Regions from separate parts of the Homo sapiens genome. Here all the other regions are linked to region 1. The links come from fine-mapping of genetic effects on gene expression. A gene starts in region 1. Each other region holds a variant in brackets. All regions are shown on one strand. Distances are between the middles of the regions.

Region 1 (2,753 bases):
GACTTGGTGCTGAGCTGTGAAGCCCTGCGTTCCCCAACCCCACTTCATAGAGGGACAAGCTGGGGCTTGGGGACGGAGGGTGCCGGGCATGTGTTCCCCCTGCTGGGGGAATCACCAGGCCCTCTCTGTGTCTGGAGTCAGCTCGGGGAGCAGGGTCACCCGCCTGGCGTGGCGTGGCGTGGCTGAAGGGCCTCGGCCGCTCTGGACGAGATCAGTGTCCCTGCACTGCTGCACAGGGTGGCCTCTCCTCCTCCTCTCCCTACAGCCTCTCCCCAGATGCCCTAAGCCCCAGTGACCTGGGCCAAGGGCAGTTCAGCTTCCCCTAAGCCTATTAACAGCAGAGGGGAATTCCTAATCTCCCATCGAGCTGCTGTCAGCTGCACATGCTGCCGGAAAGTTCTGGAAGGAGGCACATGACACAGACAGGAGGGGCTGCTTGCCCGCACTGGATGCCCCAGGGACCACCTCTTGGGGTCCCCTTTCCTGCCCCTGGTCTTTTTGGCTGGGATTCCTGACTCCAGCCCTGGGCTACTACCAGCTGTTTGCCGAGCTTCAGGCGTGAGAGTGATCAGAAAGCAAGGGCAGGTGGCCCATTTTGGGGACGCGGGCTCTGCAAGGGGTGCTGGGCACCTGGGATTGGGGTGGACCCTGCCATGGCACCTTCCCTCACTAAGGTTCAGCCTCTGTCCCCGGGACTGGGACCAGCACCAGCCTGTGCAAAACCAGCACTCAGGAGCCCGGTGGTCCCAGCTGCTCAGATCCCATGGCACCCAATCCTCATATCCTAGATAGCACAGGCCCCGTCCAGCTGCTTCTCCAGCCCTGGGACATGGGCTGTCCTGGGCAGCTCTGGGCCCTGATGGAGCTCCAACCATCAGATGCCATCCATGTGGAAACCGCTGCCTGCGCTGCCCTGGCCCGACCCAGCCTGTGACTGGCGTCCACTCAGGTCAGCTGAGCCCACGTGGCCTGAGGTTCCCAGACCATCACTGGCCTGGGGATGGTGGAAGCACTGGTTACCATGGGGGAGCAGAGGAGGAGGTTGGCTGGGAGTCCCCTCTGAATAACAGGGTGGCGGGTAGGCATCTGCAGACCCAGACCTCAGCCACGGTGGTAAAAGCCTGTCAGCTCCCTCTGCCCCTTGGGTGATGAGCAGACCCCCACTGACTCACTGGGGGAAGTGGCTGCCAGGAAAGACAGCGGGGTTGGCCACTACTCACCAAGTGCAGGGCGGGTCTCAGGGGGCTGTGCTGTGAGTGCTGGGCCTCCCTCCGCAGGGTGCCAGCCCCGGCCTTTATCTCGCTGCTTCATGAGCTGATTAGGCGTCTCAGTGCCACCCTAATGAGATTGTTGGGCCCCGAGGGGGGGCACAACCACCAAGGTTCAGGGGATGGAGAGGAGGGGCTCAGGTGCTGTCAAGGGCTCCAAGGAAGGACACCCAGCAGATGGGGCCGGGACAGGGAGAGAAGTGTGACCCTGAACAGCCAGGCTCCTGCAGCTGCCCATCTTCCAGATGGAAGCAACCACAGTGTCTGCTGTCTTGGGCCTCCCTACTGCCTTTCCTGACCCTGCCTGATCTCTGAAGGGCCCACCTTCATGGTCCCCAAAACCCTCTGCAGCCTGGCCCTCACCCGCTGCTGTGGCCTCACATCTCACCCCTCCCACCCCAGGGCCTTTGCACCTGCTGCTCCTGAAACCAAACAAGGACCCCCCCCCGCCCTTAGGGGCCTGTGGGTCTTCCCAAGCACAGAAGCAAGGACAATGTTGAGTTCCTTCAAGGGCAAGCCAGGCCCCCAGCCAGCCCAGAGAAGGAAATGAGCAGCCGATCCACAGGAAGGTCACAAGAAGGTCACAGGAGCTTAGAACAACAGATGGAAGCCAGAGTCCCGAGAGTCTCCACAGAAGCAAACCATGCCATCTTAGCAGGTGCTCCTCAGTTGTTTTCCAGAAACAGGGACTCCCACCAAAGGGGCGTGCTGGCACACAGACCTCACATGAGCGGGAGCTGAGGACTGGCCTCTGACCACCCTTCTCTTACCTAAATTTCTTCCTGAGGGGCCTGGAGGAGGCTATGCCCATCCTGAGGGGCCTGGAGGAGGCCATGCCCACAACCCAGAGCTAACATTCTTTCCTGCGGATCCCAAAGTTTTAGACAAAGATTCGCTTCTGCACCAAATCAGAAAACCTTTGAATCCACCTATGACCCGTGGTCCCTGGCTTCAAGATCTCCTTGCTATTTATGGCAAAACCAGTGTACAACCTCCATGTACTGATTTATGACTTGCCTGTGACCTCTGCCTCTGCACCTTTAAAAACCCATAACTCAGGCCTGGTGTGGTGGCTCATGCCTGTAATCCCAGCACTTTGGGAGGCTGAGGCAGGTGGATCACAAGGTCAGGAGATCGAGACCATCCTTGCTAACATGGTGAAACCCCGACTCTACTAAAAATACAAAAAAATTAGCCGGGCGTGGTGGCATGTACCTGTAATCCCAGCTACTTGGGAGGCTGAGGCAGGAGAATGGCGTGAACCCGGGAGGCGGAGCTTGCAGTGAGCCGAGATCGCGCCACCGCACTAGAGCCTGGGCGACAGAGCGAGATTCTGTTTCAAATGAATAAATAAATAAATAAATAAATAAATAAAAACCCATAACTCGGCCGGGAGCAGTGGCTCTCAAACAGCGCTTTGGGAGGCTGAGGCAGGAGGATCACTTGAGGCCAGGAGTTCAAGACCAGCCTGGACAACATAGTGAG
Region 2 (2,753 bases), 32 kb before region 1:
CTCAGCACTATGGGAGGCCAAAGCAGGTGGATCACGAGGCCAGGAGTTCGACACCAGCCTGGTCAACATAGTGAAACCGTCTCTACTAAAAATACAAAAATTAGCCAGGCATGGTGGCGCACACCTGTAATCCCAGCTACCCGGGAGGCTGAGGCAGAACTGCTTGGGCCTGGGAGGTAGAGGCTGCAGTGAGTCGAGATCATGCCACTGCACTCCAGCCTGGGTGACAGAGCAAGACTTTGTTTCAAAAAAAAAAAAAAAAAAAAGCAAAACTCTGTCTCAAAAAAATAAAAAACCCGGCCGGGCGCGGTGGCTGACGCCTGTAATCCCAGCATTTTGGGAGGCCGAGGCAGGCGGATCATGAGGTCAGGAGATCGAGACCATCCTGGCTAACACGGTGAAACCCCGTCTCTACTAAAAATACAAAAAATTAGCCGGGCGTGGTGGTGGGCGCCTGCAGTCCCAGCTACTCGGGAGGCTGAGGCAGGAGAGTGGCGTGAACCCGGGAGGCGGAGCTTGCAGTGAGCCGAGATCGCGCCACTGCACTCCAGCCAGGACGACAGAGCGAGACTCCGTCTCAAAAAAAAAAACAAAACTCAATTCCAATTCTGAAACCTAACACAGAATGGTGCGACTAAATCATAAAACGTCCACTGTGCAGGGCACTTTGCTAGATGCTGGGAATATTCACTCATTCCTTCAACAAATATTAAGCAGTTCTATGTGCTCAGCTCCATTCTGGGTGTTCAGATCACAAAAATGAACTAGAAAAGACAAGGTTTCTGGCCGGGCGTGGTGGCTCATGTCTGCAATCCCAGCACTTCGGGAGGCCAAGGCGGGTGGATCACTTCAAGTCAGGAGTTCAAGACCAGCCTGACCAACATGGTGAAACCCCATCTCTCCTAAAAATACAAAAATTAGGCCAGGTGTGGTGACTCACGCCTGTAATCCCAGCACTCTGGGAGGCCGAGGTGGGCGGATCACGAGGTCAGGAGATCGAGGCCAGCCTGGCCACCTTGATGAAACCCCATTTCTACTAAAATACAAAAATTAGCTAGGCGTGGTGGCGGACACTTGTTATCCCAGCTACTCAGGAGGCTGCGGCAAGAGAATTGCTTGAAACCAGAAGGCAGAGGTTGCAGTGAGCCAAGATGGCGCCATTGCACTCCAGCCTGGGCGACAAGAGTGAAACTCCGTCTCAAAAAAACAAAAACAAAAACAAAGACAAAAATTAGCCAGGCATGGTGGTGCACGCCTACAGTCCCAGCTAGTCGGTGGGCTGAGACAGGAGAATCACTTCGACCTGGGAGGCGGAGCTGCAGTGAGATGAGATCACGCCATTACACTCTAGCCTGGGCAACGGAACAAGACTCCACCTCAAAAAAAGAAAAACAAAAAAAAGACAAGGTTCCTGCTGTCAAGCAGTTTACCAACAAATGGGGGAGACAAAGTCAACAAAGGTCGAAATAAGCACTACGACAGAAAAGGAAAAGAAACCTCAGATGGGAGGCTAGAAG[T/C]CTCTCTGAAGAGCTTCAGCTGAGCAGGGCCCACCCAGCGGTGGGTAAGCCCGCCACACGCGAGCTGGGAGAAAAGGCCACAGGGAGTAGGAGCAAGCACAAAGACCAGGAGGCAGGAAGGGTGTTGGAAACACGGAGGCCAGAGGCCAATAAACAATAAGGAAGATGGAAAGAGATGAGGCTGGCGAGGCAGACAGGGCCGTGGGAAGCCACACAGACGAAAGGCAGGGGGAATCATCATCCACAAAATCCCTGTTGCTCAACACCACACTGAAGAGGAAGCTAGAGTGCCAATTAGAGACAAGAGAGATGGGCTGAGACAGGGGATGAGATGGGACAGGATGGTGGGGATGAAGGCAAGAGCACACTTTCCAGCAGTGGTCATCACCAGGCCCAGCTGACGAGCAGGACCAGGGGCAGGAATGGAATGAGAGAAAGGAAGGAGGTCAGAGTAAAGCTGAGAATTCTAGATTGAGAAACTATGTGGAGGTAACACCTGTGCAGGGACCATGAAAGGAAAGGCTAAAAAAGGAAGAAGACTAGAGGGAAAATCAGGACTTCCATTTGACACTGAGATCGGAGGTGACAACCAGACACACTGCAGTGAAGCCGTCCAGCAGGCAGGTGGGCGCATCTGTGTCTGAGCCCAGGCAAGGGGCCAGAGCAAGAGCTCTACACCGAGGGGTCATCAGAGTAGATGTACCCAAATAAAAGGAATGTGAATCTCGGTAAAGAAACAAATCATAAAAGAACAATCAAATGGAAATTCTAGAACTGAAAAACACAAGAACAGAAATAAAAAATTCACTGAACGGGCTTATCAGCAGAAGGGAGAGAGCAGAAGAGTCAACCTAAACATAGGTGAATAGCTTGTGGTCCCAGCAACTCGGAAGGCTGAGGTGGAAGCACTGCTTGAGCCCAGAAGTTTAAGGCTACAATGAGATATGATCACACCACTGCACTCCAGCCTGAGCGACAGAGTGAGAATCCAACCAACTCTAAAAAGAAAAACATAAATGAATCAATAAAAATAACAGCTATATAATCTGAAGGCAGAGATTTGGGGAAAAAAAAAACAGCCTTAGGAACCCATGGTACAGGATCAAATGCTCCTCACTAGAAAAAAATGAGGGTTGGGCGCGGAGGTTCAAGCCTGTAATCCCAACACTTTGGGAGGCCGAGTTGGGCAGATCACCTGAAGTCAGGAGTTTGAGACCAGCCTGGCCAACATGGTGA
Region 3 (2,753 bases), 38 kb before region 1:
ATCGAGACCATCCTGGCTAACACGGTGAGATCCCGTCTCTATTAAAAACACAAAAAATGCCCCCCCTCCCCCTCCGTCTCTTTCCACGGTCTCCCTCTCATGCCGAGCCGAAGCTGGACTGTACTGCTGCCATCTCGGCTCACTGCAACCTCCCTGCCTGATTCTCCTGCCTCAGCCTGCCGAGTGCCTGCGATTGCAGGCGCGCGCCGCCACGCCTGACTGGTTTTCGTATTTTTTTGGTGGAGATGGGGTTTCGCTGTGTTGGCCGGGCTGGTCTCCAGCTCCTAACCAAGTGATCCGCCAGCCTCGGCCTCCCGAGGTGCCGGGATTGCAGACGGAGTCTCGTTCACTCAGTGCTCAATGGTGCCCAGGCTGGAGTGCAGTGGCGTGATCTCGGCTCGCTACAACCTCTACCTCCCAGCCGCCTGCCTTGGCCTCCCAAAGTGCCGAGACTGCAGCCTCTGCCCGGCCGCCACCCCGTCTGGGAAGTGAGGAGCCTCTCTGCCTGGCCGCCCATCGTCTGGGATGTGACGAGCCCCTCTGCCTGGCTGCCCAGTCTGGAAAGTGAGGAGCGTCTCTGCCCGGCCGCCATCCCATCTAGGAAGTGAGGAGCGCCTCTTTCCGGCCGCCATCCCATCTAGGAAGTGAGGAGCGTCTCTGCCCGGCCGCCCATCGTCTGAGATGTGGGGAGCGCCTCTGCCCCGCCGCCCCGTCTGGGATGTGAGGAGCGCCTCTGCCTGGCCGCGACCCCGTCTGGGAGGTGAGGAGCGTCTCTGCCTGGCCGCCCCGTCTGAGAAGTGAGGAGCCCCTCCGCCCCGCAGCCGCCCCGTCTGGGAAGTGAGGAGCGTCTCCGCCTGGCAGCCACCCCGTCCGGGAGGAAGGTGGGGGGTCAGCGACCCCGCCCGGCCAGCCGCCCCGTCCGGGAGGGAGGTGAGGGGTCAGTGCCCCCGCCCGGCCAGCCGCCCCGTCCGGGAGGGAGGTGGGGGGTCAGCCCCCGCCCAGCCAGCCGCCCGTCTGGGAGGTGAGGGGCGCCTCTGCCCGGCCGCCCCTACTGGGAAGTGAGGAGCCCCTCTGCCCGGCCACCACCCCGTCTGGGAGGTGTACCCAACAGCTCATTGAGAACGGGCCATGATGACAATGGCAGTTTTGTGGAATAGAAAAGGGGGAAAGGTGGGGAAAAGATTGAGAAATCGGATGGTTGCTGTGTCTGTGTAGAAGGAAGTAGACATGGGAGACTTTTCATTTTGTTCTGTACTAAGAAAAATTCTTCTGCCTTGGGATCCTGTTGATCTATGACCTTACCCCAACCCTGTGCTCTCTGAAACATGTGCTGTGTCCACTCAGGGTTAAATGGATTAAGGGCG[G/A]TGCAAGATGTGCTTTGTTAAACAGATGCTTGAAGGCAGCATGCTGGTTAAGAGTCATCACCACTCCCTAATCTCAAGTACCCAGGGACACAAACACTGCGGAAGGCCGCAGGGTCCTCTGCCTAGGAAAACCAGAGACCTTTGTTCACTTGTTTGGCTGCTGACCTTCCCTCCACTATTGTCCTATGACCCTGCCAAATCCCCCTCTGCGAGAAACACCCAAGAATGATCAATTAAAAAAAAAAAAAAAAACACAAAAAATTAGCCGGGCATGTTGGCGGGCGCCTGTAGTCCCAGCTATTCGGGAGGCTGAGGCAGGAGAATGGCATGAACCCGGGAGGTGGAGCTTGCAGTGAGCTGAAATCGCGCCACTGGACTCTAGCCTGGGCAACACAGTGAGACTCCGTCTCAAAAAACAAAAACAAAAACAAAATTAGCCGGGCGTGGTGGCACATGCCTGTAATCCCAGCTACTCGGGAGGCTAAGGCAGGAGAATCGCTTGAACCCGGGGGGGCAGAGGTTGTGGTGAGCTGAGACCATGCCACTGCACTCTAGCCTGGGCAACAAGAATGAAACTCTGTCTCAAGAAAAAAAAAAAAAAAGAAAGAAAAGAAAAGAAAAAAGGCGGGGTGCCAGGCGCAGTGGCTTACATCTGTAATGCCAACACTTTGGGAGGCTGAGGCGGGTGAATCACTTGAGGTCAAGAGATTGAGATCAGCCTGGCCAACACGGTGAAACCCTGTCTCTACTAAAAATACAAAAATTACCTGGGAATGGTGGTGGGCACCTGTAATCCCAGCTACTCAGGAGGCTGAGGCAGGAGAATCGCTTGAACCTGGGAGGCAGAGGTTGCAGTGAGCTGAGATTGCGCCACTGCACTCCAGCCTGGGCAACAGATTGAGACTCCGTCTCAAAAAAAAAAAAAAGGTGGGGGTACAGCACCCCATGGTCCTGCTGAGGGAATGGCCTGAGTCTGTCAGGCCTCTGTTTACCGCTTTGCATCGGCAGGAAATCCAGGACACAGAGGGTCATGCTGGAGGGTCTTGTGAATGTGAAATCAGCAAGACCTCAGAGGTGGGAAACTCTACAGGTCAATGGACCAAGTTCCTCAACAGATAAATTTCAAGAAAAGGGAAGAGATGGAAGGGGAACCTGAAGATTACAAGAAGTAAGACATACAAATTTCCTTAAAAAGCAAGACTAACTGGCAGTGTCTAGGGATAGACACTCAAGTAACGAAAGAATAAAGAGCCAGGCACGGTGGCTCACACCTGTAATCCCAGCACTTTGGAAGGCCAAGGCGGGTGGATCACGAGGTCAGGAATTCGAGACCAGCTTGGCCAACTTAGTGAAACCCCACCTCTACATAAAATAAAAAAATTAGCCAGG

Evidence for each region. PIP is the estimated chance that this variant, and not a neighbour inherited with it, causes the effect.
Region 2: its variant is the best candidate, but not a certain one, in a credible set for the expression of PDE6G in whole blood (INTERVAL, PIP 0.58).
Region 3: its variant is the best candidate, but not a certain one, in a credible set for the expression of PDE6G in whole blood (INTERVAL, PIP 0.63).

What each region holds. Positions count from the first base shown.
Region 1 is chr17:81,655,273-81,658,025 of GRCh38, forward strand. It overlaps PDE6G (phosphodiesterase 6G), which reads right to left and starts at 1,270. Exons shown (of 4, transcript NM_002602.4): 1 at 1,221-1,270.
Region 2 is chr17:81,623,219-81,625,971 of GRCh38, forward strand. The region is part of intron 2 of NPLOC4 (NPL4 homolog, ubiquitin recognition factor); the gene reads right to left. Among named protein-coding and RNA genes, the nearest start is that of NPLOC4, 13 kb to the right of the region's middle. The variant T/C (reference allele first, on the strand shown) is at 1,518.
Region 3 is chr17:81,617,603-81,620,355 of GRCh38, forward strand. All of the region lies in intron 3 of NPLOC4 (NPL4 homolog, ubiquitin recognition factor), which reads right to left. Among named protein-coding and RNA genes, the nearest start is that of NPLOC4, 18 kb to the right of the region's middle. RefSeq lists enhancers at 1,225-1,768, 1,769-2,312. The variant G/A (reference allele first, on the strand shown) is at 1,365.